Regions from separate parts of the Homo sapiens genome. Here regions 2 and 3 are each linked to region 1. Evidence: fine-mapped expression QTL. A gene starts in region 1. Each other region holds a variant in brackets. All regions are shown on one strand. Distances are from middle to middle.

The links. PIP is the estimated chance that this variant, and not a neighbour inherited with it, causes the effect. A credible set is the group of variants that fine-mapping cannot tell apart.
Region 2: its variant is the best candidate, but not a certain one, in a credible set for the expression of EXOSC3 in transverse colon (GTEx, PIP 0.66).
Region 3: its variant is the best candidate, but not a certain one, in a credible set for the expression of EXOSC3 in aorta (GTEx, PIP 0.55).

The regions. Positions count from the first base shown.
Region 1 is chr9:37,779,716-37,789,985 of GRCh38, reverse strand. EXOSC3 (exosome component 3) reads left to right here and starts at 4,922. Exons shown (of 4, transcript NM_016042.4): 1 at 4,922-5,265; 2 at 5,923-6,072; 3 at 7,849-8,000; 4 at 9,106-10,270. The coding sequence starts at 4,942. The coding sequence ends at 9,307. It overlaps LOC105376037 (a long non-coding RNA gene), which reads left to right. Exons shown (of 3, transcript XR_929599.3): 3 at 1-940. RefSeq lists enhancers at 5,030-5,169, 4,667-5,182, 5,180-5,239.
Region 2 is chr9:37,731,698-37,741,967 of GRCh38, reverse strand. FRMPD1 (FERM and PDZ domain containing 1) reads right to left here. Exons shown (of 16, transcript NM_014907.3): 10 at 9,528-9,664; 11 at 8,369-8,495; 12 at 8,143-8,238; 13 at 6,234-6,416; 14 at 4,725-4,872; 15 at 1,084-1,890. Among named protein-coding and RNA genes, the nearest start is that of TRMT10B, 17 kb to the left of the region's middle. The variant T/C (reference allele first, on the strand shown) is at 4,682.
Region 3 is chr9:37,874,377-37,884,646 of GRCh38, reverse strand. It overlaps a transcript of SLC25A51 not described here and the pseudogene PAICSP1. Among named protein-coding and RNA genes, the nearest start is that of SLC25A51, 25 kb to the left of the region's middle. The variant AC/C (reference allele first, on the strand shown) is at 5,006.

The DNA.
Region 1 (10,270 bases):
TGGTACTCCTACTGTATGCTGTGTTGAATAATAAATTTCTTCATCTGATCCACCAAATCTCATCTACATTGGTACCAATGGAGTTGTGGCTGGTGAACCTGCTTTCTTGCTTAGTCGTCTCCGTTGGAGTCTTGTTATTTCTTGCTATTCTCTAGGAGGTTGGGGCTCTTCTCTAACAAAGGGTGCCATGACACAGGCACACACACACACTACAAAATGAAAATAAACATGAACTAGAAAGATGTTTCCTTATTCAAGAAATGCAGATAAATGGCAAAGCTGTTGGAAACCAGAAAACCATGTAATTTTGAGTATTTAAAATCAATCCTGTATTGTGATACACTAAGACCAAACTTGAATGTTATTCCACATAAGAATCTAGCCAACAGAATGTAGTTCAGATTTGGGAAATGATGGTGAGGAAACTATATTTTATGGAATTGCTAATACATTTAAAACAGTAGTTGGTAAGAAAAAAGCGTGTTCTGGGCCAGGTGTGGCGGCTCACGCCTGTAATCCCAGTACTTTGGGAGGCCGAGATGGGCGGATTACCTGAGGTCAGGAGTTCGAGACCAGCCTGGCCAATGTGGCGAAACCCCGTCTCTACTAAAAATACAAAAATTAGCCGGGAGTGGTGATGTGTGCCTGTAGTCCCAACTACTTGCGGGGCTGAGGCAGGAGAATCGCTTGAACCTGGGAGGCGGAGGTTGCAGTGAGCCAAGATCAAGTCACTGCACTCCAGCGTGGGCAACAGACCAAGACTCCGTCTCAAAAAAAAAAAAAAAGTGTTCTTTTACTTTTTACAATAAATCCTGTTTGAGAAGTTATGATCCTTGTGTAAAAATATCTGTAGCAAGTAGTCTGTCATTTGTGCAGTGATAACTGTGGGCATTTATGTTTTTAGATTAAATCCTGTATTTGAATAAAGATGTTAACAATACTTTCATGGGCTTTTATGGTTAATTTCAGTATGTAAATTAGCATGTAGTTCATTTATAATTTTAGAAACTAGTAAAGTAAAAAATATTAAAGATTCACTCAAATTATTACTTCCTTTGTAACACCTATCCTAACCCCTGCCTTCCTTCCATGTAGAGACAACTATTTCATCCTCTGTACCCTCAGGGCTGACACTCTATTCAGGTTGTTGCATCCACCTTAACACTTGCTATCTTCATGTGGAGAGAGTGAACTCCCCCAAGGGCAGGGACCAGGACTCAGCCGCCTCCCCAGCTCAATTCCTGGCTGAAAGCAAATGCTCAACTAGTGTTGGTTAAAAGGAACAAATGCCCAACCTCACCAGTCGGTAAAGAAAAGCAACCGTGAGATGCCACGTTTCTAACTTCTAAACTAGCAAAGATTAGTTATGAAGAGGAAGTTCTGGGAGGAGTCCAGAAAGCTACACTCTGGTCCAACCTTTCCAAAGGTCAATTTGGCAATTTCCCCATATGTCATACTAATGTTGTGTAACCCCAAATTCAGTCTCATGTACCTGATGCAGAGCTGAAGCCAAACGCTAAGACACAGGTGCTTGGAGATAGAGAAAGGTTTGTTCAATTGGGCCAAAGCAAGAAGGCGGAAGAGCAAGATCTCTCAAATGTTACTTAACAAAGAGATGACAGCAGGCGTTTTTATGGGGTAGGGTGTGAGGGAGGGTTTCCGGGAACAGAGGGGAAAAGTCTGTGCCTCTACAGTCTCAGATAAAACTTTGAGCAACCAGACTTATGGGTGTCAGCAGCTGGTCAAAAAGTCCTTAATGGCATTCATTCCTTCTGCAAAATATTTTCATGACCCTGAAGTTATCTCTCCTGCTAGACAAAGAAACAGGACAACAGCAGTTTATAATTATATTGTGGGAACAAGAGATATTGGGCAAAACGGGAGCGCTTACTATGTGCATGCAGGCAAGGGCCTGATCAGAATTTTCACTACGGCCGGGCGCGGTGGCTAACGTCCGGAATCCCAGCACTTTGGGAGGCCGAGGCAGGCGGATCATTTGAGGTTAGGAGTTTGAGACCAGCCTGGCCAACATGGCGAAACCCCCTCTCTACTAAAAATACAAAAGTTAGCCAGTCATGGTGGTGCATGCCTGTAATCCCAGCTACTTGGGAGGCTGAGGCAAGAGAATCGCTTGAATTTAGGAGGTGGAGGTTGCAGTGAGCCGACATCGTACCACTGCACTCCAGTCTGGGCGGCAGAGCGAGACTTTGCCTCAAAAACAAAAAACAAAACAAAACAGAAAAAAAAAAAACACCAAACGGAATTTTCAATACTTCAGTTACTAAAAATGCCAGACTACTTAAATCTCAAGGGGCCTGGTTACACTCCGAATGGGGAGACGTAGGCCAGAGGCACTGGAAAGGTGAGCAGTCTCGACTGCTTCGGCTCGAAACCAGTAAGCCTCTGAAGAGAACGGGCGTAATCCACCTCGCGATTGGCAAGGAAACACACGCACCCGCAGAGGGCAAAGCGCGCACGCCGCCTGCACCGGGCTCTGGCCTCCTCTGCATTCCCCAGTCGTTGCACTTTTCCCACTTTTATAACCAGGAGAGGAGGCACGCGCTGCCCGAAAACGCGAACCGCGACCCATGGGACGCTAGAACCGACCCGCGCGCCCTCGACGGCTTGAAGCCGGGTTCGAGACACTCGTTCGCGGCCTAGGGCTCCCGCCGCCTAGGACCGGGTGCTCACTCTCGACAGGGCGCAAGACCGCCAGGTGGCGAAACACCTCCTCGGTTGCGCGCGGTCTGGTGGGCAGGCTGCGGTCCCGCGTGCCCCACCCGCTCTGGGCGTGTCAGGGTGGTAGGTGTTCAGGAGTGGAGCCCCGCCCAGCCACCGCCTTCGGGTCCCGGCCTCCCTGTTTCATCTGCCTTGACCCGCGAGAGAGCTACACCGCTCGCCACGTGCGGCCTCCACAGGGTAGTGGGCCTCATAGGACTCAGCCGCTAGATCTGGGCCGAGTTTCCTCCAGAGACTTCACTACCGACATGGGGTGTATCAAAGACGGTCCAGAGAACATTTACCGACCTGCCTGTTTGCCTGGCCGGAATGTGAGGTCCTTGAGCGCCCTTGAGCCATGGCCTTGGGCCTGCCAAGATTGAGGCAGGCGTGGTCACCGAATACTTCTGGAGTGGGGAAGAGAGCACAATTTACGCTGTCCCTGCCACAGGAGCTCCCACTCTTGCCAGGGAAACTAACCTGGAGGTGGGAGCTCCTTTTATTTGTTGACCTTTTTTTATACCCAGGGGAAAATGGCTTGCCAAATTTGGAGGGTGTGTTAGAGATGATCTGTCTTAATCATCCTAAAAAATCTAAAAATTCGGCCGGGCTTGGTGGCTCATGCCTGTAATCCCAGTACTTTGGGAGGCCAAAGTGGGCCTATCGCTTGAGGTCAGGCGTTCAAGACCAGCCTGGCCAGCATGGTGAAACGCTGTCTCTACTAAAAATACAAAAATTAGCCAGGTGCGGTGGTGCACTCCTGTAATCCTAGCTACTCGGGAGCCTGAGGCAGGAGAATTGCTTGAACCTGGGAGGCGGAGGTTGCAGTGAGCCGAGATGGTGCCACTGTAGTCCAGCCTGGGCGACAGAGCGAGACTCCGTCTAAAAAAAAAAATCTAAAAATTACGTTGGAAGCAGGTGCCTCAAAGAGATGAGCAGTAGAAAGGGAGGGCCGCTAAAGGCAATCGGTCAGTCACGGCCTCCCAGACCCTAGGAATTCTACCACTGCTGGAGAATCTGATCAAGCACTAATTGAAGGTTCGAGTTGACAGAGAAAACGGTGATTTAAAATAGAACCCCCAAAGTCAGATAGATGATTGGAATCTCTTTGGGTTTGGAATTCAACTGCTTCTCACGTGCGCAACTAAGTGTGCTCCAGGGAAATTTGAGTTACTGATATTCCAGGCCATGTAGGGCTATCGGAAGCATGTGAAATATGTATATTTGCAGGGGGAAAAAGTCTAGGGAGAAATACACACCAAAGGAATACATTCGTTCATTCATCAGGTATTACCTATTTCATGCCACACCTTGGGCTCTAAAGAATCAGAACTACAGTGTAGCAAGGGAGAAAAACGGGCAAGATTAAAACATCGTTTATTTTCTTCTTTTATTTTTCTCTGTGTTTTCTAAATGTGACTAGATCTCTAACAACCAAGAAGGTTTTATTTATTTTGAAAAAAACTACTTTTCCTGTTAAAAGGTCAGCCACTCTTCTGAGGGCGGAGTCGGAAAGAAGGTCCCATGAACCCACCTAGCGTCCAATTTCCCTTTTTTTTTTTTTTTTGACAGGGTCTCACTCTGTCCTCCAGACTGGAGTGCAGTGGCACCATCTAGGCTCACTGTAACCTCCGCCTCCTAGGTTCAAGTGATTCTCCTGTCTCAGCCTTCCGAGTAGCTGGGATTACACGTGCGTGCCACCACGCCCGGCTAATTTTTGTATTTTTAGTAGAGACAGGGTTTCACCATGGTGGCCAGGCTGGTCTTGAACTCCTGACCTCAAATGATCCACCCGCCTCGGCCTCCCAAACTTCTGGGATTACAGGCGTGAGCCACCGCGCCCGGCCCCAGCGTCCAATTTTCAAAGCCCCTCTGCTCAGCTTCCAGAGATCCCAAGAAACTCTTAAGTGGAAGTATCTCGTATCCCCACGATGCGACCGGTCACAAAACACGCGACCCGAGACACTGGAAGTGGAGGCTTTTCGATGGACCAAGCTGCGCGGTTTTCATACCGACCCGCGGCCAGGCTGTCAGATAGGTGGCCGGCCACAATCACTGCCACCTTGGACAGGGACCCGTGAGCTGACGGCCATCAAGCTTCATAAACTGGTCCGAATCCAACGGACCGCTACTGCCGGAAACGGAAAGTCCTCAAGGGCGGGTGTTGGAAGCGGAGCGGAAGCGGAAGGCGGGTACCGGAAACGGTGTTTGGTGGAGCCCGCGATGGCCGAACCTGCGTCTGTCGCGGCTGAATCTCTCGCGGGCAGCAGGGCGCGCGCTGCACGCACAGTACTAGGTCAGGTGGTGCTCCCGGGTGAGGAGCTGCTCCTGCCGGAACAGGAGGACGCGGAAGGCCCTGGGGGTGCAGTGGAGCGACCGTTGAGCCTGAATGCTAGAGCGTGCTCGCGGGTGCGCGTTGTATGCGGTCCGGGCCTTCGGCGCTGTGGGGACCGCCTGCTGGTCACCAAGTGCGGCCGCCTCCGTCACAAGGAGCCCGGCAGTGGCAGCGGCGGCGGTGTTTACTGGGTGGACTCTCAGCAGAAGCGGGTGAGCTGGGACTCCGGAGGGGTGGTGCGGCAGTGAGAGTGGTAGCCCTGCTTTGAGAAGACCTCCCAAAAGAAGAGAGGGACCCTGAGGCCCTCTTTTGTTCAGGCAAACCTAGAGCCACCGTAGTCTTGTGCCCACTTCTGCATGTCCTTTAGAGGGACCGTGAACAATAGGAACATAGCCTGAGAAGGGCGACCAGGAGAGAAAAACGTTTGGAGACCGTGAGTCATGATTATAGTCTTCAAAACCCCACAGCAGGCCTGCCGTTTGGAGTCTCAGAGGGCAGGACTAGGCTCAATGAGTGGATGTCATAGGGAGTTAATTTCTCCTAGAACAGGTAAGAATTTCATATAGAAAAAATTGTCTATGGAATGGGCTTCCTTGGTTGTAAGGATTCCTTTGCCACTGGACTTATGCCACAAAGCTAGAGACTTACTGGTTGGGGTGCCTAAGAGATAATGGAGTTTGGACTCAATTAACAGACTACCAGAAGCTGCACACCCGGCACTTTATGAAGTGATTTTCTTTTACCGAAAGTGGCATTTGATCAGATTTCTCTTTAATGACAATAAAGTAACCACAAAGGACTTGCTGAAGGTATCTTCCAATGGTATCTTGTCATTTATGGCTGTTTTTTCATTCTGTTTCTTTTTGTAGTATGTTCCAGTAAAAGGAGACCATGTGATTGGCATAGTGACAGCTAAATCTGGAGATATATTCAAAGTTGATGTTGGAGGGAGTGAGCCAGCTTCTTTGTCTTACTTGTCATTTGAAGGTGCAACTAAAAGAAACAGACCAAATGTGCAGGTAATTACGGGAGCCTTTGGTTTCAAAGAAACAAACATCCATTCCCTAGAACACTCACATATCCAGAAGGCTATCTGAATTGTCTCCAAAGCATGACCTAGATCTCTGAGCTTGTATATAATTGCCCCAGGCTCCAAGAGTTTCTTCAGATGCTCCAGGATCAGAGCCACATAATTATTATTATTATTTTTTACATTTACAATTTATTTTACATTGGCTACATTTGTTCTTGGGATGTTTCATTTCTACTGAGTTGAAAGGTTGTATCTATCATCGCCATTATTTGTTATGTCCATATCCTCTGGACAAGGATGTCTGCTGTAGGCTTAGAGGAGGGACAGGTGGTGCAAATTGACATTATCAGCTATCCATCCATCCTGGCTGTAGGTCCTAGGAGCTGATAGAGGAGTAATATTGTTACCTTGGGTTTTCAATTTGAGCTTTTCAGGTAGCATAGCCACACTCTTCTTGTCTATCCAGCCTGAAATTTAGTGATTTCTTCACCTCTTCTCATTCACTTCTCATGCAAATTTAGTTGCTTAATCCTATTTTGATCCTATTTGATTCTGTCTCTGATCTTTGGCATGTCCGTCCCTTTATCTCCACAAGTTCAGGCTTCAGCTCCCTCTTGACTGGTCTCAGTCACTTCTTCATTAATCCCTGCCTCCACGCTTTTACCTCACCATCCAGGATTTTGAGAGCTGACATCCTCACACGGTCACTTTCTCGAAAAGACAAGATTCTCCAAAATCTACAGAATTCCTTGGCATTACACTCCAGGTGTCTTTCCTCATCCCTAATTATATCCTTCATACAGCCATACTCAAATCACACCAAACGCCATTAAACTCAATTTCCTGCCCTTATTTGCACATGCTGTTCCCACTGTCTTGATTGCACTATCCCTTCGCACCCTATGGAACACATTCTCATTCTTTGAGACGTAGGCTAAACATGACCACCTCTGTAAAGCCATCTCTAGTTGCCACTTTTCTCGTATCTTTGCTCTAGCACTTACTGGATTGAGCCTTGACTGAGGTTTGTTTATATGTACCTCCCCACTGCCCTCCAAGACCAAATGCTTCTGAAAAGCAGAGAATGTTTTGTTCCTTTCTAGTTTACATAGTCACCAACAAACAGTAGGTACTTAATACGTTTTGTTGAGTGAACAGAATGAGTTCACTCTCCATTTCCTCAGTTTCGTCCCTTTGAAGTTTAGCTCTATGAGGTTTTTAAGTAAATCCTGCAGGGAGAAGTGTCAGTGAATTATTGTTTGATTTTGCTTTGAATAATTTGCATGCCGGAGTTCCTTCCTTTCTCTGTAAATCTGTAATTCTCTAGGGTAGTGCGACCTAATATAACTTTCTACAGTGATGCTGTTTTGTATCTGCACTGATTAGTATGGTAGCCACTAGCTGTTGAGCACTTGAAATGTGGCTAATGCAACTCAGGAAATTAATTTTAAATACCTAATTTTAATTTAAATGTAAGTTTAAACAATTGGCTATCTACCATATTGGACAGTGCAATCCTAGTGTTCTCTGGCCTTGAGATGGCTCCTCGTCTGTGATTTCCTGATTGGTGAAAGGGAATGATACATGTGTTCCTTTTTTTCCCCAAGACTCAACTCCAAAGTGACTGTGGGAATCCTATAGTGCAGTCAGTCCCTTAGCCACAGAACTGTAGGTGGCTGGCATTGATGCCTGTGAGAAAGAACCAATAGTAGCACCTGTAGTTTGCTGAGAGGAAATGAACTGGTTTTTAATATCATTGTAGGTTGGAGATCTCATCTATGGCCAGTTTGTGGTTGCTAATAAAGACATGGAACCAGAGATGGTCTGTATTGACAGCTGTGGACGAGCCAATGGAATGGGTGTCATTGGACAGGATGGTCTGCTTTTTAAAGTGACTCTGGGCTTAATTAGAAAGTAAGTCCTGATGTCTGCTGGCTTGACTGCTTTTTATAATTATACATTCTTGGAAAGTTGGTTAATCTTCAGGATTCAGATTCTTTGTAACGTTTGAATTTCTCCTCAGAGTTAGAAATCAGTATCCATTTTAACACATTTGGAAACTCATGAATTTAATCCTATCTTCTTGGAAACATATCAAATTCAGATGTGTTTGGCTGTGTAGTTTCTGGTGGGCTGATACTTCATGCCTTAAGCTCTTACTCTGTATTCATATCTTCCTTCCCAGGCCTGTTGCTTATTTGACTTAGCCCAAATGTGAAAACTGGCCTTTCCCCTGTTCTGAGTCACTTGAATACAGATGCAGTCTGCAGTTGTATAAAATTATCAATTTTTTCTAATTATGGGGGTCACACGCAGCTTAGATTGTGATGTTCAAGGTTATGTAGACATTCACAGAAGGCTTCTGACACTTGGTCATACTGAGGCATACTGAGGTTCATGCTGAGGCAGATTCTCTTTTTGGTGTTTAGAACTTTACCCACCCAAAGCTGTGCCATATTCAGGGGCTTTACTCCTAGAGCCAGTGAAGTTGAGAGCTATCTTGTATGCCTCTCCTTACTACATATCCTAAAGATCTGGAGAATTAAGTTTGGACATCAGAGAAGCATGTTTTTAACCAAGAAGCATGTTATTAACCAAGCACCACCCTTATGGTTTGAAAGAGCCAATGTTCCTCTCCAAGTACTGAATTTAACACAAGAGAATAATATGGCCAGGAAAATAAGTTTAAAGTGTCTTAACACTGTAGATAAAAAAAGTTATGATTCCCAGTCTAGAATTAAAGTGCTCTGACCATCTAGGGGAATGACTTTTACAAAGTTGGTAACCTAGGGAGTTTGATTTCTTTGTAAGGCATAGCCCACCTCTGTGATTTCTAGTATACCTTTGAACAGTGTAAAGTTCCTTCTTGGAAGAAAGGAGGCAGCAAATGTCATCACGTGCCTTGTTCTTGTTGAACAGCTATGGAGAACTGCTCAGAAAAGGAATCACATTCTAAAGGAGACTCCGGACACACCTTTGCCACTTCATTAAATTTCATTTTCTTTTCTCTTCCCACCAGGCTATTAGCTCCAGATTGTGAAATCATACAGGAAGTGGGAAAACTCTATCCACTGGAGATAGTATTTGGAATGAATGGAAGAATATGGGTTAAGGCAAAAACCATCCAGCAGACTTTAATTTTGGCAAACATTTTAGAAGCTTGTGAACACATGACGTCAGATCAAAGAAAACAGATCTTCTCCAGATTGGCAGAAAGTTGATATAGGTGGACTTTTTTACAGGTCAGTTGAGGCAAAAAACTATGGGTTTTTTCAGGTGAACCTCCCCCATTTAAATACTCAGAAGATAAGGTGTGAATGTATGTATTATTAGAGTCCGAAAGTATTTTTATAAGTTACTGGTTTTCACCCACGCTTTTGTGGGAGAGAAAATCATTGCAAAATCATTTTTTTTGTTCGGTACAATAAAGTTTACTAAAAAACAGTATTAGGGTTTATTTGGAGTTAACTCCCTTAGTAATTGCTACAGCTTCCATAATTAACTGGAGGTCAGCAGTAAAATAATTTTGTGATTATAACAGTAAGCCAGGTTCACCAGAGGAAATGTGGAATACCTAAGTATAAAGCAGCAAAGAAATGTCACCTGTAGTCCCATTATTCAGCGGGTGAGTATATAACAACGAAATACTTTTTCATTTACCAAGTATTGTGTTTTGCATGGATTAACTCCTTTATTCTAACTGCAGAAGACACTTATCCTCATAATTGAAACTGAGGCACAGAATTTAACTTGGCCTACATTCTCTATATTCATCAAATTGAAATTATAGTTATTATAGCTTATATGCCACTTTGTAATATACTTTTGTCTACTTCAAACAGCATGATACATTTCACAACTTTAGTCACATATTTCATGTTACAGGATATTTTTGAGTTTTATCATTATATAAATAACACTATGAGGATTTCTGAATCCAAATCTGGCCAAGTCTTATTTTGCTAAAATCATTTCCTAGGAGCTAAGCATAGAAAACTCTTCTATGCTATTTAGTATATTAACCAAAACCTTTAGAGGTAAAGAGACTGCCAGGTGATCCACATCAGTGATTCTTGGTTTCTAGACCTCTGAGAATATGTGAGATACAGATCCCCTGAAGCCTATCCATAGAAAGTCCTTTTTGGATCAAAGAGATTATAGAACTCTATTTGTTGATAAAGACC
Region 2 (10,270 bases), 48 kb after region 1:
ATGCAAGAACATGTGACAGAGATGGGGAGACTTGCCCTGGCCTGGGAAGCCTGGGAAATGTTCTCTGAGGAAGTGAATTCCAACCGGAATCTGATAGACGGATGGGCACCATCAGCCACGATCTGGGGAGGAGTGTTTCGGTCAGAAAGAGCAGCATGTGCAAAGGCTGGAGGAGGGGGAAAAAACAGGCACTTGTAGAAAGTGGCAAGGAGGTCTGTATGGCAGGAATGCAGGAGGAGGGAGAGAGACAGGCAGAGGCCATGTCACAGAGGGCCTCAAAGGGCCTGATGGGGCTCCCAGAGGAGCTGGCCTTTCTCTCCAGAACAGTGGGAGAGCACAGGAGGTCTGGGAATAGAGGATCAGAGAGCAGCAGGAAAGTGCCGAGACAGGAACAAGGGCTGCAGCTCTCCCAGCTCCTGGCAGGTCACCTTCAACATCCATGTGCTCTTTTCCAATATGTTTCCTTCAGAATGCAGTGTGTGTGTGTGTGTGTGTGTGTGTGTGTGTGTGTGTGTGTCCTGCCAGGATCTCAGTTCTGCTTGGAAAGACCCTCCACACTCTCGGTGGAGGAATGTATGAGGAACCTGATAGAAACACAGCCACCAGATCCCCTACCTTCTGATGTCAGGGTCCCTTGGACCCCAGAAGGCCTTGCAGGGCCACAGACGGCCTGTCTGTCTGGTTCTTCTTGCTTCAAGGCCTCCTTTAATGCAGCCTCAGGATCAGTGATGACATAGCCACTTCGCTCTGCCGGGCACTCCTGTCAAGCCCTTTCCTTTTTTGTAAATTCTGTCCCTCCCACAGGGCCCAGCCCATTTGCCCCCTCTTCTGGGAAGCCTTCCCTGATTCCCACTGTTGGATGAATCCCTCCCATCTGCTTGCCACAGTTGTCTGAACCTCCCTTGCAGGCCTGCCACGATGCCTAAAATTTGGTCCATGGAATCTGTATCTACCTCCTCAGAAGTGTACAGGGACCCTGTTTCACTCATGTGCCTTCCTCTCAAGCTTGGCCCCAGGCCTTGATCCCCGGGAGGCACTCAGGAGCTGCCTGCCGTGTCTGCAGACCTGCAAGGGACGGCTCACCTGACGGGGGGCCTGGGGGAGTGAGCTTATCAGCCGCGTCATAGTATTCCTCATCTGAGCTGCCATCCTCAAAGGCCAGTGGTGGGTGCAGGGCCAGGGGTTCCAGCATGGAACTGGGCTGGGCCTCAGTCCAGCCCTGCTGACCCCAGGCTGGCGGGGCTCCCCCTTGCCGGGAAGCTGTACTCTCGGAACTGTCACTCAGGTAGCTGGCCGGGGAGACACTGGAACACAGGCTGTAGTAGTCAGCGTGGCTGCCTTCATACAGCCTGGGGTCCAGCCTGACTGTGCTCAGTTCTGGTGCCCAGCCAAATGTCTCCAAAGCAGCACTCTCGGAAAACTCTGTCTTCTGGCACTGGGGGTTGGCTCTCTGGGCCAGGTCCAGGAGACAGAGGAAGCCACTGGTTTCAATCCCGCTTCTCTCCTCCTGGCTGTCAGAGTCAATGCTCTCTGCGAGGCCTGGCGAGCCAAAGTGGAAGAAGGTGGACCTGCTGGAGGAGCAGGTGTCTAAGTCATCCTCTTCCAGAGCGTCCATGGACTCACTCGAGCCACTGGTCCTGTAGCCGCGGCTCTCAGTGTTGGCTGAGTCGGACGCCTCGGACTCGGCACTGTCTGTCGTGCTGCTGGCCCCGCAGGTGCTGGGGCCCCTCCTAGCCACCTCAGGTGTGGGGCTGTTCCCAGGAGGCTGCTCCTCCTTTATGAGTGATCTGCAGGGTGCCAGTTTCACCAGGCGCCTGTCAGAGAGAGGTTCGAGTACGCAGTCCACCTCAGAGGACTCCTCTGAGTCACTGCAGGCCCTGGATTCATAGCCTGCAACACAGGGTACAGCAACAGTTACACAACAGAATTCTCCTACCTATGTGTCCTTCTAGCCCCCTGACCCCCACCCAACCCTGCCAGACGAGAAAACTGAGGGCCAGAGGGTGGCTGGCCTAAGACCGTCCTATACTGACGAACACGGGATCCGAGGGACTCCAGCTTCCATGTTCTCCCCATGCTATCAGACCGCCTGTCCCACATCTCTCTGAGCTAAAGGAGGCTGGATTAACTCCATCCCCACCTCCAAGGAGAACTGTCTGTTCATGGAAATGTGGTATTTACTTTGATTCCTCTTTGTGTGGGCAGCACTGCCCAGGTTTGCTAAGCCCCTCCCCAGACCTCAGTTCTATCCTGCCTGGGCGTCAAAGTCAGATGGGGAATCATATTTTAAAAATACAACAGATCCTTGGCCCTACCCCTGATGTACTGAGTCAGATCGCTAGAAGTGGGGCCTGAGAATCTGTATTTTTAGCAATTTTATGACGAGTACGAGGCTGCTAGGCTGGCACCATTCTAAAGCCTGGCCTTCTGGATCCATGGGTGCTATGGGCTTTGTAGGACAGTGAAAACTCATCCAGCGGCAGGTTCTCAGGAAGGATTAATGGTAGGAGGCTGGGGAGCACTGAGCCAGGTTGCAATCTCTTTATTCCTGTAAGCCTCCAGAGTGATCTTTCTCAAACTTCTCTCTGACCTCATCACACCCTGCTTAAACCCTCTGATGGCTGCCCTGCTTACGGGGAAGAGCCTGGCCTCCCCCACAACAGTTACAGACTCTCACAGTATGGCCTTGTTGCCCTTCTCACAGGATGGCCATGGCGCCTCATGCACAGTCTAGTCCTCCCTTGCCTCAAAGGATGGCCCTAAGGCCTCCTCTGCAGGCTCTTCCCCCTCTCCCAGGATGGCCCTGAACCCTCCTCTGCAGTCTAGTACCCACGACAGGATGGTCTTGACACCTCCCCTTCAGTCTAGTGTCTCCCTCACAGAATGGCGCTGAGGTCTCCTCTGTAGTCTAGCTGCCCTTCTCGTGGTGGGGCTCCTATCTCTTTTCACCATCTCCCTTTTCCCCTCTTGCAATATGGTCCAGCCCCTCCTCAGGCACCCAGTCCCCCATGGCAGCCTTCCCTGCCACGTTCCAGCCACCCATAGGGAGAGCTCCTTTCAGGTCATGGCCTTTTCCTCGGGTCATTCCTCCAGGCCCCCTCGGCCTTGAATGATCTGTCTTCCTTTTCCGTGCCTGGTTAACTCCAGCATGTTCTTCAAGATCTATTTCCAATACCTCTTCCTCTAGAGAACTTTCTCTGACAGGCAGCAGCAGTCCCCCCCACAACCCCTCCACAACAGCCCTGTTGCCACTCTGCGTTGTCTCCCTGAGCAGACTCTGAGGAGTCACCCCTCGTTCATAAATACATTGTGTAACAACAAAGGTAACAGGCTGGGCGCCGTGGCTCATGCCTGTAATCTCAGCACTTTGGGAGGCTAAGGTGGGCAGATCATTTGAGGTCAGGGGCTCGAGACCAGTCTGACCAACATGGCGAAACCCCATCTCTACTAATGTACAAAAATTAGCCGGGCGTGGTGGCAGGTGTCTGTAATCTCAGCTACTTGGGAGGCTGAGGCAGGAGAATCACTTGAACCCAGGAGGTGGAGGCTGCAGTGAGCCAAGATTGCACCACTGCACTCCAGCCTGGGTGACAGAGAGAGACTGCCTCTAAAAAAAATAAAAATAAAAACAAAGGTAACAGATACTCCAAACTCATCACTTTCTAACTGTTTTACTTATTGTATTAGTACCTATTCTCTTGAGCTGATTTCTACTTTATCCATATAGAGGAAACACTCTACAGTGGTGTGCTATTGATCACCTCTTCCCATCTCCACATTCATCATGGTATCATCATATCGTGGTAGCCTGAAATTACCCATCGTGAGAATGTTGACACCATGGAATTGGGCAATTCCTTCAAACTGTTTTTGTCCCTCTGCAGGGAGTTGTTAAGCATTTATCAGCACAGCCCTAGGTTCATGCTGCATCAATGGTGCTGAGGCAAAAGCCTGGCAGAAACTGGGAGCTGGCCTAGGAAACTGTCTTACCTGCCTTGCAGAGAAGTTCTTTTATACTTCAAGAGATTGCAAAAGAGTGCATAGGTAAGGAAGAGAAGCCAGGTCATCTACTTCCTGAACAAATAAGTGACATCTCTTTTTGATGAGAAATAATGATAATCTTTTTTTTTTTTTTTTTTTTTTTAAGATGGAGTTTCGCTCTTGTTGCCCAGGCTGGAGTGCAATGGCACGATCTCGGCTCACTGCAACCTCCACTTCCTGGGTTCAAGCGATTCTCTTGCCTCAGCCTCCCAAGTAGCTGGGATTACAAGCATGTGCCACCATGCTCGGCTAATTTTGTATTTTTAGTAGAGATGAGGTTTCACCATGTTGGCCAGGCTGGTCTCAAACTCCTGGCCTCAGGTGATCCACCTGCCTCAGCTTCACAAAGTGCTGGGATTACAGGCGTGAGCCACAATGCCTGGCTGAGAAATAATGATAAAATGCAGTGGATCTGAGAGACAATCTTAGGAAATACAGCAGGGAACTAGAGCTCTTCCACAGCATTCCTTGGTTTCAGGAAAATTTCAGATACAAAGAAAGCTTCTTTGTTTAGTATTTATGAAAGATCAATTGTTTACTAGGAAATAAACAGAGAAATAGCTCTCATCCACTTGAGCTGAAGCCTCGGCTCAATTCAATTCACCACCTCCCTTTAGGCTGCCCTTACCTACAAGGCCAG[T/C]GAAAGGGGCCTGTCCTTATTGGGGCAAGACTCAGTGCCTCACCTTCTTCTGCAGATACCCGGTGCGCTTGTTGTTTGTTTCCAGGCCAGAGGAAAATGGAGGTAACTGGGTCAACCAACAGCCTGTAGTACCCAGCAATCAGGCAGGCTAGGTCTTTTGCACTGTTGGATTCCAGCAGCAAAGTCAGAACCTTTGAAAGCAAATAGAAATCTCATGTTTATCAAGGACCAAGGGACAGTCTGAAGACTGACAACAAAGCCATGTGGGACCAACGAGAGATTCCAGGTAAATCCGGCCATGGTCCACAGGTAGGTCTCCTGGTGCCCCATATCCTCACTTGCAAGGCTTTAAATGAGGACATGCATGTACTCGTACAGACACCATCGCGTGTGTGTGTGCGCACACATACACACACACACACACACACTCTCACGCACTCACACACTCACTCACACACAGTGGGTCCTTCCCACCCAATCTATACAGTGTCTTCTGACTCCTCATCCTCTACCCCAGCGCCATATCCAAACTGCCCCATCCCACCCTGTTCATTCCTGCAGAGGGACTTGCAAGACTGAACTTAAAAAAGAAAAAGGAGCAAGAACATGTGGAGAATGAGGGAGAGGGTGATAAGAATAAAGCACCAATATTGAGTATGTTGGGATTAAATCAAAGGAGGGCAGAATAAAAGTAAGACCTTTGAGAGAGGCTCAGGAGGTACCCTGCACTAGTTACCTTTTTTTTTTTTTTTTTTGAGACAGAGTTTTGCTCTTGTCACCAGGCTGGAGTGCAATGGTGCAATCTTTTGCTCACTGCAACCTCTGCCTCCTGGGTTTAAGTGATTCTCCTGCCTCAGCCTCCCAAGTAGCTGGGATTACAAGCGTGAGCCACCACACCGGGCCCACTATTTACCCATTTTAATGCCCACCACTCAAAGCTTTTGAGCAGCAATCTGGTCCCATTCATGTGATAAAATCCTCTGGTGGGCCGGGCGCGGTGGCTCACGCCTGTAATCCCAGCACTTTGGGAGGCCAAGGCGGGTGGATCACGAGGTCAGGAGATCGAGACCATCCTGGCTAACACAGTGAAACCCCATCTCTACGAAAAAATACAAAACATTAGCCGGGCATGGTGGTGGGCGCCTGTAGTCCCAGCTACTTGGGAGGCTGAGGCAGAAGAATGGTGTGAACCCACGAGGCGGAGCTTGCAGTGAGCCAAGATCGTGTCACTGCCCTCCAGCCTGGGCAACAGAGTGAGACTCTGTCTCAAAAAAAAAAAAAAATCCTCTGGTGTTCTCCATCTACGTTTCTAAATCCAACAGGAAAGCACATGGTCCATCTCAGTTTGTGCAAAAAAACCTTTTAGGACCTCTTCAGGAAAATTTACCATTTACCACTTTCCGTTTGATAGAACAGGATGGACAATTCGTCCTCTTAAGCAGATATTGGACATTAGACTTTATTATTATTTAAAATTCATATAAACTAGCCTGGCCCCTATTTGGCCCCAAATTCCAGCAGTTGAATTCAGAATCTCTCCCCATTGTGTTACCTTGACGTCCTGAAGATACACTTTGACGACGCTCACTTTCTCAGACTCTTCCGTTAGCTCTACACGGCTGATGTTTGCAAACTCTGCCAATGTGGACATGATGTTGAGTTTGCTATTGATAACCTGGCTAATCCCATACTTGGCTCCAACTAGAAGGGCAATGTAGGATTCTCTATCCTGTAACTGCAGAGGGTGGAAGGGGAATTAGTCTCCATTCGCAAGCGAGTGAAAATACATTTCACATGTAAGCAATAATACCTCTCGCTGCAAACTCCTTGATTCCTACTTTGGATCCTAACCACCACTCCTCCAGACTATTGCCTAACTTGGACCCCATCAACAGCTAAATCAAAGTGTAAATTTATTTCCCCAAAACTCTTTCCAATATAGCCCTGAGCCACAGCCATAAACACATCTGTATTTTCACACCTATGTACCTATCTTCCTGCTCTTTGAATCCCTTCCCTGCCATCATTTCCCATTTAAATCCTGATCCTTCTTTAAAAGCTTACATCAAAACCTACTGCCTATGGAAAGCATCTGCCTGATCTCAGCCTCCTTAAGCCAGAAATCTCCCTTTCCTCTCTGTTGTTCTGTACCACTTCCTCTTACTTCTCTACTAGCACTGAACACTTATGACTTCTTATTTTAATTATTTGTATTAAGTCTCATTTTCCACATTAAGTTTCTTGACAACAGAGTCTGCATTTATCTCTATTTGTAACCCGCAGTGCCCAGCAAGCACCCTGAACCTGTTCCATGTAGCTGGTTGCTTCTCCCACTACCAGTTCTTTCCTTAGACAAGAAAGGTAAAGGGAGACTGGGGACTGGAACTGGACAGCTGGGAGAGGGTAGAATTAGCCCTTAGAAAAATTGGGAAGTTTTTCTTGTACCTTCAAAACTTTCCTTTCTGTGATCTAGTCTCTTTCCCACCTTTTGGGTCTTCTACTTAAACGAAGAATCCATCTGTGTTTCCCCTTCCCCTAACTATCTGATGCTCTTCCTTTCTTTCAAAACACTGATTCTCTTCTTCCATCTACATTGTTAGGTTAGCAGTCTGATTACATTGGCCCATCACTGTAAATGACTGAGATGCATACCAAATCTTTTGAAAGGATTTTGGTTAATATTTTTTTAAAACCCCACTCTAATTGTAAATTGGTTTTGTGCTGCAGAGTCCTGGGGCTGACAGTGCTGGAGGAAAGCTCTCTGAAACCATACCCCCGAGACACTGACTGCTGAAAGGCACAAGCTCTAGGCCTAGGCTCCAAAAAGAAGCAGGCAGGAGAATGGGAAGAGAGCAGAGGGCTTTTCTGCTTCTCGTTTCTCTTCTCAGGCCCACCCCTCATTCCTCCCTTCTGAACAATCAGAGACTCAGCTTGGCAGTCAAACACTCTTATTTTTCTTTCATGATTTCCAATTTTCCTCTTCACCTTCATATACCCAAAGCTCCAGAGTGAACTGCTTACCATCCCCTTCTGACCCAGAATGCCTTTTCCTCTCTACTGAAGTCTGGCCAAATTCAGGCTTCCTCTTGCCTCTTTCCTTAACCCCTTCTCCTCCCTATACTTACCCTGAAGCAAGCAGTGCTACCTTCTGTCTCCAAACTCCACAGCAATAGGCCTGAACCTGTCTCATGGCTTTGCTTCATTTTGTTGGGTAGCTTGTTTCATCCTTCAAGGACGGAAATCACATCTTATTCAGCCCTGCTTCCCCTAGCATCTATCACAGGGGTAGCACCAAGCAAACGCGTGGTAAATATTTTCCAGTGGTGTACTATTTAGTTTACCAGACAAATTCTAGTACATGACAGAGTCCTCAGGAATTTTAGGCTAAAAGACACATTGATTTTCAGAGGATCTCTAAGGTCCCTTACGTGAGTAGGATTTCACAGTTCTCTAATACATACCATTAAAGTAGCATTAAAGATTCTTCCACCATATGTCTTGAGTTCTCCGAGGATCTGTAGATAATTTAAACGTAGCTGGGCAGCAGAAATAAGTTGCTTAATAGAGAAAAAAAAACACTTGAAGTCAGAGTTATTCATTGGTCTAAAATCCAGGCAGTGTTGAAAATGTTTTTCCTAAGGTTTCACAGACGACAGCTGAGTGGGTCGGCAGAGGCACCTTCATTACCTTCTGTCGGGGTTCCAGCAAATTCTGGTTCCTCTTCATGTGGAAGCTAATGGCTTTCTTGATGTCTTTGCCTTTCATGTTTCGGAGTAAAGTTGGAGATATAAAGTTCTCTATTCCCCAGTCTTTCCTGCCATGAGACATTGGAGACAAGGAGGCCCATTTCTACAGGGTACTTGGCTCTAATGAAGAGCATAATTACATTTGATTCAGTACTTAGTGTTCCCATAATACAGCAATTACGAGCCACTTTCTCCTCCTCTCTTTTTCTTTCTCACACACACATACACACACTCTCCACAAAAATCCCCACAGGCATTCAGGAACTAAACCCCATTGATCATTCTGGGAGCTCATTACTCTTGGTGTGGTGTGACCATCTATCAGTCAGAGCAGGAGTTCTGAATCTTTTTCACTACAAAATACATGGCAAATAATGACAGCATACAAGAGAGTACAAGACACTCTCATGGGGCAACGCAGAGCTCCTGTGAATCCCCTAGGCTAAGCTTCAGCATGGTGCCAGCCTAGCAGCTTCAAAATCCCCCAGAAAATTGCTAAAACTACAGATTCTCAGGCCCTGCTGCGAGAGATTGGACTTAGTACATCAGGGGTAGGGCCAAGGATATGCTGTATTTTTAAAAATATGATTCCCCATCTGATTCTGATGCTCAGGCAGGACAGAGCTGAGATCTGGGGAGGGGCTTAGCAAACCTGAGTGATGCTGTCCAGAACAATTCTAAGCTAAGAATCAGAAGGTGCTGGAATCGTAGGACTTGAAACTGCTCTAGTGGAGACATAATGCAATAGGAACTGGTTCATATCCACGGGAAAAATTAACTTCCAAGGCATTCCCACCCCTAGAAAAGCTTAACACTGATGCTGGCAACTGATTTCCCAAGACATCTTCCCAGGAACAGGCAATTTACAAGGGAATCCTGTGACATTCCATCTGGAGTTGGCTTCTGTCCCAGAGAGAGCAGCCAGGTTCAGACATCTGGGGGAGCCAGGTCAGATTAGAGAGGGTGCAGAGGGAAATGGATGGAAAGACAACAGACAGATGGGTAGGTGGGTGACTATCAGCTTTCTGTGGCATCTGGCCCTCCTGGCCAGGGGCCAGCAAGTTATAAATGCAATGCAGCTGCCATCCCCTGCCACTCACTCTATATACTTTAAAGAGATCTTCTGTGGCTGGGCACAGGCGTAGATCCGTTCCTGGATGTGCAGAGCCGCGAGTCGGAGTGCAGAGCTACATTTCATTTCTACAGCAAAGCGCTCCTGGAGCACATCGCTGCAGCTCTAGAAGAGATTAAATAGAGCAGATGGGAAACAAAAGCAGACATACTGTGTCCCCTCGTTCTCTCGGGTGAAAGGCAGCAGGACCAGGAGCTCCGCTTTGAGAGCTGGCTCTGACAGTTCTTGGCTGTGTGACCTTGGTTAAGTTACCAAGACTCTCCAAGCATTTGGTGTCTGGTAAATGAGGATAGTAAAATCTACCTTATGTGGTTTCTGTGAGACTTAAATTAGATAATGCATATGAAAGCAGGTATAAGGCACACAGTGTTATACAAATATAAAGTATTGATGGCGTTGTTATTGCTATTATTATTATTTTCTGCCACCATTTCTGTAAGACTTGGGGCAGTCCAATCCACCTAGTCTGAGTTATCTCATCTGTAAAATGGTGATATCTGCCAAATGATTCTTTTTCTTTTTTTTTTTCTTTTCTGGAGACAGAATCCCGCTCTGTCACCCAGGCTGGAGTGCAGTGGCATGATCTTGGCTCAATGCAAACACCACCTCCAAGGTTCAAGTGATTCTCCTGCCACAGCCTCTCAAGCAGCTGGAACTGTAGGTGTGTGCCACCACGGCTGGCTAATTTTTTGTATTTTTGGTAGAGACGGG
Region 3 (10,270 bases), 95 kb before region 1:
CTGTTCTCTTAAAACTCTCCTTTTAAAAAATAAACACTTCCATAACATTTTGTTTTGGAAGTCTATTAATGCAATCCCACTTTTTTCCCCCTAGTTTCTAAATGTTAAAGAGAGGGGAAAAAAGGCTCAGGATAGTTTTCACCTCACAGTGTTAGCTGTCTTTTATTTTACTCTTGGAAATAGAGACTCCATTAGGGTTTTGACATTTTGGGAACCCAGTTTTACCATTGTGTCAGTAAAACAATAAGATAGTTTGAGAGCATATGATCTAAATAAAGACATTTGAAGGGTTAGTTTGAATTCTAAAAGTAGGTAATAGCCAAATAGCATTCTCATCCCTTAACAGACAAAAACTTATTTGTCAAAAGAATTAGAAAAGGTGAAAATATTTTTTCCAGATGAAACTTGTGCCACTTCCAATTGACTAATGAAATACAAGAGACAGACTGAAAAAGTGGATTATGCATCTTAAAACCCTTTCTGTAAATATTATGTAGCTAAAGATTGATTTCCAGCATCTGACATGACAGTAGGTTTCTTGTTAACCAGTTTTTCTTCTTTCTGGATAATTGCATATGAATATTTATACATACTGACCAAAATAAAGGCCTCAACTTGGTAGTTTACTGAAAGTTCTTGGACAAATAGTCCATAAAAGCTGTTGACCTCTAAATGCACTATGGCTGGTTAAATACAGTGACCATCCTTCTTCCAGCTGTAAAGGATGAAGCGTATTAAGCATTAGCCAGGCAGTAATAAAGCTAAATAGCCATACAGCAGCTCTGACAATGTTGTGCTGGATATTGCAGTTTGCTTTCAAGGTGCAGATGTAAGGATTTAAAAAAATAATAATTTGGCACCAAATAAATATGAGTAGCATCCATTGGCCTATTAAATCGAGTCAGGATTTGAAGGGAATTGAGTTTGAGAAATGAATAAATAAAGGCACCTTGGTGCCTGACCCCCTCAATCATGCGTGTGACTTTGAGCACTCACAGGTGTGTGCAGCTACTCAGCCCAGGGCAGGTGGGTTAGCCTGGGGTTATACCTTGGCCCTGGGAATAGACACCATTGGGCCTTTGGTTTTGTTGGGCTTCCTTTTGTCTTTACACTCCACACAGGTGGTAGAAATCTGAGTTCTAAAGCACTTTTGTGAAATACAAGCTAAGTGAGAATTCTAAAGAAAATGCTTTGGTTTCTGCTGTCTCAAATAAGTGGCATTTAAAAACAATTATTAATAAATATTTTTAATGGTTTTAACTCAGTATTTTTTTTTATTTCTTTGTCACTCTTTACAGCTTTTGAAGACCAAACTGCAAATACATTACCAGGGATGGTTTTGTGTTGTCCTATAGACTTCTTAAATTTGACAAAAAATTTAGCAGAACTTGTAACCAACAGCTTTGTCTGAACTTGAAGTCAAAATGTGTTGTTAATAAGAGATTCTAACTATTGCTTTTACCTTCAGTGTGAACTAGTGTGGTAACAACTTTGAAAAGGCAGGCCGGGTGCGGTGGCTCACGCCTGTAATCCCAGCACTTTGGGAGGCCAAGGCGGGTGGATCACTTGAGGTCAGAAGTTTGAGACCAGCCTGGCCAACATGGCGAAACCCCATCTCTACTAAAAATACAAAAAACTAGCCGGGTATGGTGGCACATGCCTGTGATCCCGGCTACCCAGGAGGCTGAGGCAGGAGAATCGCTTGAACCTGGGAGGCGGAGGTTGCAGTGAGCCGAGATTGCGCCACTGCACTCCAGCCTGGGCAACAGAGTGAAACTCTGTCTCAAAAAAAAAAATTGAAAAGGCAAATGTGATTGAATATCTGAAAAGCTTTAAAAGTGGCCTTTCTGTTACGTCTGTGGCACAAATGGCTCATGAGCGCAGGACACTTATGGTCTTGTGTCCTATACTTCATGTGTGATGCCACCAGAAATGTTATGGATTCCGTATTGAACACACTGAGAGTGGTATGAGCCCTCAGGACTGCACCACAGAGTAAACACAACCTTGATATGGTGGCGAATATGTGTGTCTTTCTTGTTTCATTTGTGGTTGGGGACAAAATCGATGTATTTGTCTAAATAGTCGATATTCATCTTAACATGGTTGGTTGTGTAATCACCAGCTATATTGTGAACTGTGCAATAAAACAGAAGCGTTTGTGTATATAATTACCTTTGGATACCTGAAATTCCCAAGCTTGGTTACAATGTAATGCTCAGTATAAGGCTGTGCAAACATGTAAGGGAATAATGGTGGTCGATGGGATATATGAAATGGGATCTAGAGGGCTTCGAGTGAAGCCAATCATGTTGAACGAACACTGGTTCAGTGTAGATGAAGTAGAGTGAGGCGTATGCAGTCATAAAATGAAGGGTGGACAGGAGATTACATTTGAAGAAAGGATAAGCACTCAGACTTGGTCTCTTTTAAATTAAAATATTTCTTTTCTCATGTGCAAATGTATATCAAAGACTTGAACAGGTATTCTCTTGAAATTTGAGGATTTTTAGTTTTTAATGCTGTCTTTGCTTAATATTAAATATGTGTTGCCTATTGGCTCCCAAATTGTGTGGGAGTCTCTAAATGTTTCCTCTTGAAGGTTCATTATTGAAAGTGGTTAAGTGCACAATGCTATTTTTGTTTGATAGTTTGAGTTTTATGACCCTATGAGTTTAAATGAAATCTGTTAAATGTTTCAGAGTTAACACTTTTTTTTTGATAATTTGGAATAAAGTTTGTTTTTTAAGCCCACTCTTTTTGGTCTTCTCTTATGCTTGAGTAGTTGCTTGTTACTGGCACGTTCCTTTTTTGTGGTAGTGATAGATTGATCTGTTAGTCTTTTTATTCAGAAAACATTTAGCACACTACCTTGACTTTTAGCAACTTAACCTGGGGATGTTGCAGGTAAAACATTCCTTTGTCTATCCATCTTATTTCGTCAAGAGGGGTTTCATATAAGTTTTATTTTCCAGGTAGTTTAACTGCAAAGCTTTTTGTTTGTTTGTTTGACAGGGTTTCTATTGCCTGGGCTGGAGTGTAGTGGCATGATCATGGCTCACTATAGCCTTGACTTCCTGGGCTCAAGCGATCCTTCCGCCTCAGCCTCCTGAGTAGCTGGGACTACAGGTACGTGCCACCAAGCCCAGCTAATTTTTGTAGAGATTTTCATCATGTTGCCCAGGCTGGTCTTGAACTCCTGGGCTCGAGCAATCTGCCCACCTTGGCCTCCCAAAAGTCTGGGATTACAGGCGTGAGCTACTGTGCCTGGCCACATTTTATTTCTTAAAGGTCTTCCTCATATTTAATACACTTCTCTACTGAGTTTAAACTTTCTTGGTTTAGCTTATCAGTACTTTCTGTTGTAATAGAGTAGCCTCATGCAATGTTTACTCCCAAGTTACATGGTCTGGATGTTTGTGCTTTTCATTTTTTTTTTTTTTTTATATCTACTTTTGCCTTCAGAGCTGCTCCTTTCTGTTGTAGCTCATTGGTTAGGAGAGTGTGAAGTTTTAGCCACATTGTGAATTTGCATGTTAAGTTTTAGGTTGTTTCCTGGCTTTAGAGATCATTGAGGTTGCCTGATAAGGACAGCAAGGTAAAGGAGCAGTTGCTTCTAAAAGTCCTGTTTTGGATTGAAATCCATCATAAAGAATAAGTGTAATATCCTGAACTTGTACATTTAGATTTGATAAAAAGGGTGTTTAATCATCATCTGATGAAATCTTTTAACCCACCCATAGCAGCCACTGTAGAGTTCTAGACCTCCAGAGTGAGGAGTAGGTGTGACCAGGAACAGCCCTGGGGGATCTCTGCATAGCTACAGAGCACTCCCAATCCCCAAGAGACTGGTTCCCATCTTAAATCTTTTTATTTATTTATTTACTTTTTTATTTAGAGACGGGGTTTCGCTCTTGTGACCAGGCTGGAATGCAATGGCGTGATCTCGGCTCACCGCAACCTCCGACCTCTGGGTTCAAGTGATTCTCCTGCCTCCGCCTCCCAAGTAGCTGGGATTACAGGCATGCGCCACCACGCCTGGCTAATTTTGTATTTTTAGTAGAGATGGGGTTTCTCCATGTTGGTCAGGCTGGTCTCAAACTCCTAACCTCAGGTGATCTGCCCACCTCGGCCTCCCAAAGTGCTGGGATTATAGGCGTGAGCCACCGCGCCGGCTGCCTTAAATCTATTTATCTGACGTTCCCAACTAGGAAATTTTTTGTCCAAATGAGTATATGTGATTTTAAAGTAGAAATCGAAGGTAAAATAGGATTTATCTCAGTTCCTATCTCCCTTCAATCTATTCTTCATATTGTCAATAATTTTTTTTTTTTTTTTTGAGACGTGGTCTCTGTCGCCAGGCTGGAGTGCAGTGGTGAAATCTTGGCTCACTGCACCCTCTGCCTCCTGTGTTCAGGCGACTCTCCTGCCTCAGCCTCCGGAGTAGCTGGGATTGCAGGCATCCGCCATCACACCCGGCTAAATTTCGTATTTTTTCAGTAGAGACAGTTTTGCGCCAGGCTGGTCTCAAACTCCTGACCTTAAGTGATCCACCTGCCTCAGCCTCCCAAAGTGCTGGGATTACAGGCGTGAGCCGCCGTGCCCGGCCATCAGTAATTTTTTAAAATGTCACTTCAATAAATGCTTTTCCTCTGCCATAAAGACCAAACATCTTGCTGTGGCCTACAGGAGACAGGATGATCCAGCCCTTGCCTCCCTTACTCTCATCTCTAGCTAAAACTGCGCTGCTGTCTCTGCACTCCAGCCACTGGCACTTCCTGATTACTTGGGGCACGCTGTACTCATCTTGCTCCCAGCCTCTGCCCATGCAGGTGCCCTCTGCCCTCAGCACTGCCTTTCTCTACTTCATTTATAGACTGCTGTCCTTCAGATCTCGGTTGAAGTGTCACTTCCTTGGGGAAGCTGGCTTACACTCTCAGGACTCGGTTAGGTTCCCCCGTCAGGCTCTTCTATGTCACCATGTTTCTATTTTTCACAGCACTTA[AC/C]CTGTTTTAATTACGTTGCAAATAGTTTTTGTTTGGGTCTAGAGAAGCATGTATTCACTAGTACATTTTATTTGTGTTCTCTAATTATTTTTTCTGCAGCTAAATTAGAAATTTGTAGTTTTCCCCCTAAAAATGCAATGATGTTTTCTCTGATTTTCTTGTCACCTTTCTTCCAAAAAATCCATGTGTTCAAAGTGCTTGCTTGCAGTTTGCCCCATAATAAATGGTTGTTTAATCCAAATATCTGAGTAGCAAACTGAGCTGATCCTTCTGGAGAAAGTATGGTTGAATAGCCGAGACCACTGAGTAGTCGCAGAGAAGACCACACATCCTGAACTCCTCAGTCTGGTGTGAGGGGAGGACAATAGATAACTGGATGTGTAGTGTTCCCAAACATCACTGATCCCAAACCATTGCTTCTGCCTGCCACTGCCACAAATACAGTACGACTGCCACCCCTTCATACTCAGCTTTAATCCTCAGCATTTCTTCTGGTCCTTTATGTGCAGATGTTACTCAAAGTCTACATGGAATGCCAAAATTTCCACAGGCCTTGATTTTTTTCACGGTGATTAAGATCAGAAGTAGAACCCATCAATACTATAACACTGCACTGACTTTCTGATTTCAAAAGCAACTCTACTCTCTACAACCCACGCAAAGTTTTTCCTTACCATTTGGAACCCTTCAGGAGTTACACTGAAGCCTTGATAAGACTGTTTCAGCCAGGAGTGGTGGCTCACGCCTGTAATCCCAGCACTTTGGGAGGCTAAGGCAGGAGGATTGCTTGAGTCTGGGCAACATGGCAAGACTGGCTCTATTTTTTTAAAATAACATTTTTAAAAGTATGATTAAAAGACTGTCTTTCTATTGGCTTTGCTCCCCCGATGGTGAGTGTCTCTAGGAGTCATTATCAATAACATCAGTGAGAATTTCTTTGCTGGTCACATGAACACCAAATTCAATCTTCATATCAACCGGTGTACAGTTCTGGGAGCAACCGGGATTTCTCCGGGATTTCAAAAACAGCCTATGTGGCATGACTCATGATATCCACTTCAGTTTTATACCAAGTGCAGCAAAGCCAAATTTTGCTGCAATTAGCTGTTGCCTAGACCACTGTGGGTCATGATTGGCATCATCCTTGAAAAACATCTCCACTTTAGGTGGGCAAAACTCACATCCTTCCTTGACACCAGGATTTCTTTCGAGTGAAGAACCAGTTGGTATTCTTCTGCAAACCATTCAGTTGGAATTATTTCACACTGGGGCACAATGAAAGCTGTCTCCTCACATTTTCTGGTGAAAGCAGTTTTAATACCTGCTTCCTGTAACAACAGAAAAATGCAACTGGTAATTTTATTTGAGATTGCAGCTTTTCCTTCCAGGTGATTCTGACTGCATTTCCTGCTGTAATCTGGTCCTTAGATTGCAGGACTTTTCCTGGCCTATCTAACAAGCAATTCATAGACCTCTTTTGTTTTACCCTCACATAGTTTTTTAGCAATGTTCAGTACCTCAGCTCTCACTATTATCCTGAGTGGGATGAAAGTTGCACCCATGCTGAGAGGCAGAAATCTCTGTTGTGAATATTTGATACCTCTTGCTTTATTTATTTATTTATTTATTTATTGACACAGATTCTCACTCTGTCACCTAGGCTGGAGTGCATTGGCGCAATCTTGGCCCACTGCAGCCTCAGCCTCCCAGGCTCAAGCGATCCTCCCATCTCAGCATTGCCAGTAGCTGGGACCACAGGTGTGTGCCACCATTCCCAGCTAAATTTTGTATTTTTTGTAGAGACAGGGTTTCACCATGTTGCCTAGGCTGGTCTCAAACTTCTGAGCTCAAGTGATCCACCCACCTCAGCCTCCCAAAGTGCTGGGATTACAGGCATGAGCCACCATGCCTGGCCCTGTTGCCTCTTTAAAAAGCCAGTCCTGGCAGGGCACAGTGGCTCACGCCTGCAATCTCAGCATTTTGGGTGGCCAAGGCAGGAGGATCTATTGAGTCCAGGAGTTTGAGAGTTCAAGTCCAGCCTAGGCAATATAGTAAGACCTTGTCTCAAAAAAAAAAAAAAAAAAAAAACAACCAAGAATCAAGAATGATGGGACACATGGATATTCAGTATCACAGCATTCTGGAATATCCTATGAAATGACCGAATGAAGGTCAGCCTTCATTTGTTAATGGGTCATGGAGGTCATTTAAGGAAAAGGTAATTTTTACATTGATCTCAAAGTACTGAATTGTTTTAGCTTGGGCTGCCATAACAAAGTACCATAGACTGGATGACTTAAATCAGGGTTCCCCAACGCCTGGGCCACGGACAGGTACCCATCTGTTTGGAGCCAGGCTGCACAGAAGGAGGTGAGCAGTGGGTAAGTGAGCATTACTACCTGAGCTCTGCCTCCTGTCAGATCAGTGGCAGCATTAGATTCTCATTGGAATGCAAACCCTACTGTGAACTGCAAATGCAAGGGATCTAGATTGTGCACTCCTTATGAAAATCTAATGCCTGATGATCTGAGGTGGAACAGTTTCATCCCCAAACCATTGTGTCGCTCCACCTATCTGTGGAAAAATTGTCTTCCATAAAACCAGTCCCTGGTGCCAAAAAGGTTGGGGACCACTGGCTTAAACAACATTTATTTCTCATGGTTCTGGAGGTTGGGAAGTCCAAGATCAAGGAGCCAGCAGATTTGGTTCCTGGTGAGGGCCCTCTCCCTGGTTTGCAGAGGGCTGTCCTCTTGCTATACCCTCACATAATGGAGAGAAAGTTCTAATCTCAGCCCTTTATAAGTAATTATAAATTAGTTATCTTTATAAGATTACTAATCCCATCATGGGCACCTCTCTCATGACCTCATCTAACCCTAATTACCACCCAAAGCCCTCACCTCCAAATACTATCACATTGGAAGTTAGGGCTTCAATATATGAATTCAGTCCACAACATTAGCTGCATGATTGATGAGACTGTTCTTTATTCTCCTTTAGTTTCCAAACACTGCCAGCGATCCTTTACTCTGAGAAATGTCTAGCCAATTTGAGATAAAACACTTGTGCATGAGTCAGGATTCAGAGGTACAGGCACTCCATTTTTCTTATCCCTCCTGGCACTGTTTCTGAATTGTGGAGCTCAATTGAATGAAATTGACTAGGAAGAGCAAGAAGAAAGTATTCTTTAGAATAGTTTGTCATGGAGCACTGCTTTGTTACTGTTAGAAGCACCATTAAGGCAGTGACTTGTTTACATTGTTTTAGGGCAGCTCACCTCTACAGCTGCTCTACCTTTCATGATCAACAGAAATAAAACAAACTCAGTTCAGGCCCTCTTTATTAAGCAATTACTTCCTTCTGATGTACACTAAAAAATGCATTTAGTTACACTGAGATGCTCTCTTGTTTCAGACAATACGAAGAAAAATAAACTATTTCTCTTTCAAGGGTCATCATATCTATAATGGGTGGTTTATAGTAAGTAGCTTTCTTGTTTCCTTGGGCAAAAGAAGCTTCAGAATTTTCCTTAGCCCTCTCAGTTTTCTGGGGAAAGTGTGGCTAAACAAATTTCCAGGTTTTCTCGGGCTTTACCTCCTCATTAAATAACAGTGATAGAGTTCTGAGAAGGACCAAGGTAGGAAAAAGTGGGTACAGGTGGAAACTGAGGATCTTTCATTTGTAATCTGTGTGTAAAATATGGAAGTAAAGAGTAAAAAAAATTAGGAGATGAGGGCCTCAGTTTGAAGATACAATTGATTTGGTTTTGGTTTTTGGTAGAGATGAGGTCTTGCTATGTTGGCCTAGGCTGGTCACAAACTCCTGGCCTCAAATGATCCTCCCGCCTCAGCCTCCCAAAGTGCTGGGATTATAGGCATGAGCCACCATGCCCAACCAGCAACAGTTTTATATACCTTGAGAAGGTTAAAGGGAAGTCCAAGAAGATTAAAGTTTTGCTGTTGCTATCTAGAGCTCTTGAAAGCTTCTGCCACTTGTGATCCAAGAACAGGAATGCATGTTATTTGTGTTTGGGAGCAATAACACATCTATTTGAGTCTATTTCAACTCGAACTAGAGGAAAACAGAATCCCCAATAATTTCAGTTTGTGCCTTTTACAGTTTTTCCTCATTTATTTTATTTAGCGAGTTTGTGTTACACCTACTCAGTGTTGTAAAACTGCCATTTCAGGACAAATCATTTTGAGTTAAGAGGTTCTAGACTTTTATGGAAAATAAAGAGCACTGGCTGCCCGAGACAAGTTCCAAAGTGAAAATGTAAATGTCTCTTGATTTCTCCATCGCCTCCCAGGCTGGATTAGGCCCCTTCTGTGCCAAGTGATAACTGTTTCTTGCCTGTCTCTAACTGCATGTTTGTACTTTATCTGCCAGGACAATGTGATCTCCTCGAGGGCAGGGTCTGTCTTTCAGATTTCTATATCCACAGATTAGAGGTTCTCATAATAAATACATTTAATGAAGTAATCAATCTGATCTCTGATATTTTCTTTATCAATTATTCTCCTTGTTTCGGAAACCCTTTTAATTTCTTAAGAATTTCTTTTAGAAATCATCAAGAGGAATACATAATGGATAATTTCACTTACGTGAAGTTCTAGAAGAGGAAAATCTGTAGCAGAAACAAACAAACAAACAAACAGTGTTTCCCTCTGGGAGGATGGGGGCAGAGGTTCACCTGGAAGAGGCAGGAGAGAACTTGCTGGGATGGTGGTAGTACTCTATATGTTGACAGATGTTTGGGTTACACAGGTGTATACATTTATATAAATTTAAGTAATGTAGAGTTAATCTGTGTACTTCATTCTATGTAAATTTTACAACAAAAGAAAAAAACAAATGTTAAACTCTAGTCATGTGAGGACTTTTAGAAGGATGGGTACAGATGTCAGCAATTTAAAATGCATCAAAAATTAAGATGGATTAGGCTGGGTGCAGTGGCTCACACCTGTAAATCCCAGCACTTGGGGAGGCTGAGACAGGTGGATCACCTGAGGTCAGGAGTTCAAGACCAGCCTGGCCAACATGGTGAAACCCCATCTCTACTAAAAATACAAAAATTAGCCAGGCGTGATGGTGGGTGCCTGTAACCCCAGCTACTTGGGAGGCTGAATCAGGAGAATCACTTGAACCTGGGAGACGGAGGTTGCAGTAAGCCGAGATTGCACCACTGCACTCCAGCCTGGGCGACGCAGAGAGACTCCGTCTCAAAAAAATAAATAAAACAAGATGGACTGATGGACAGAGTT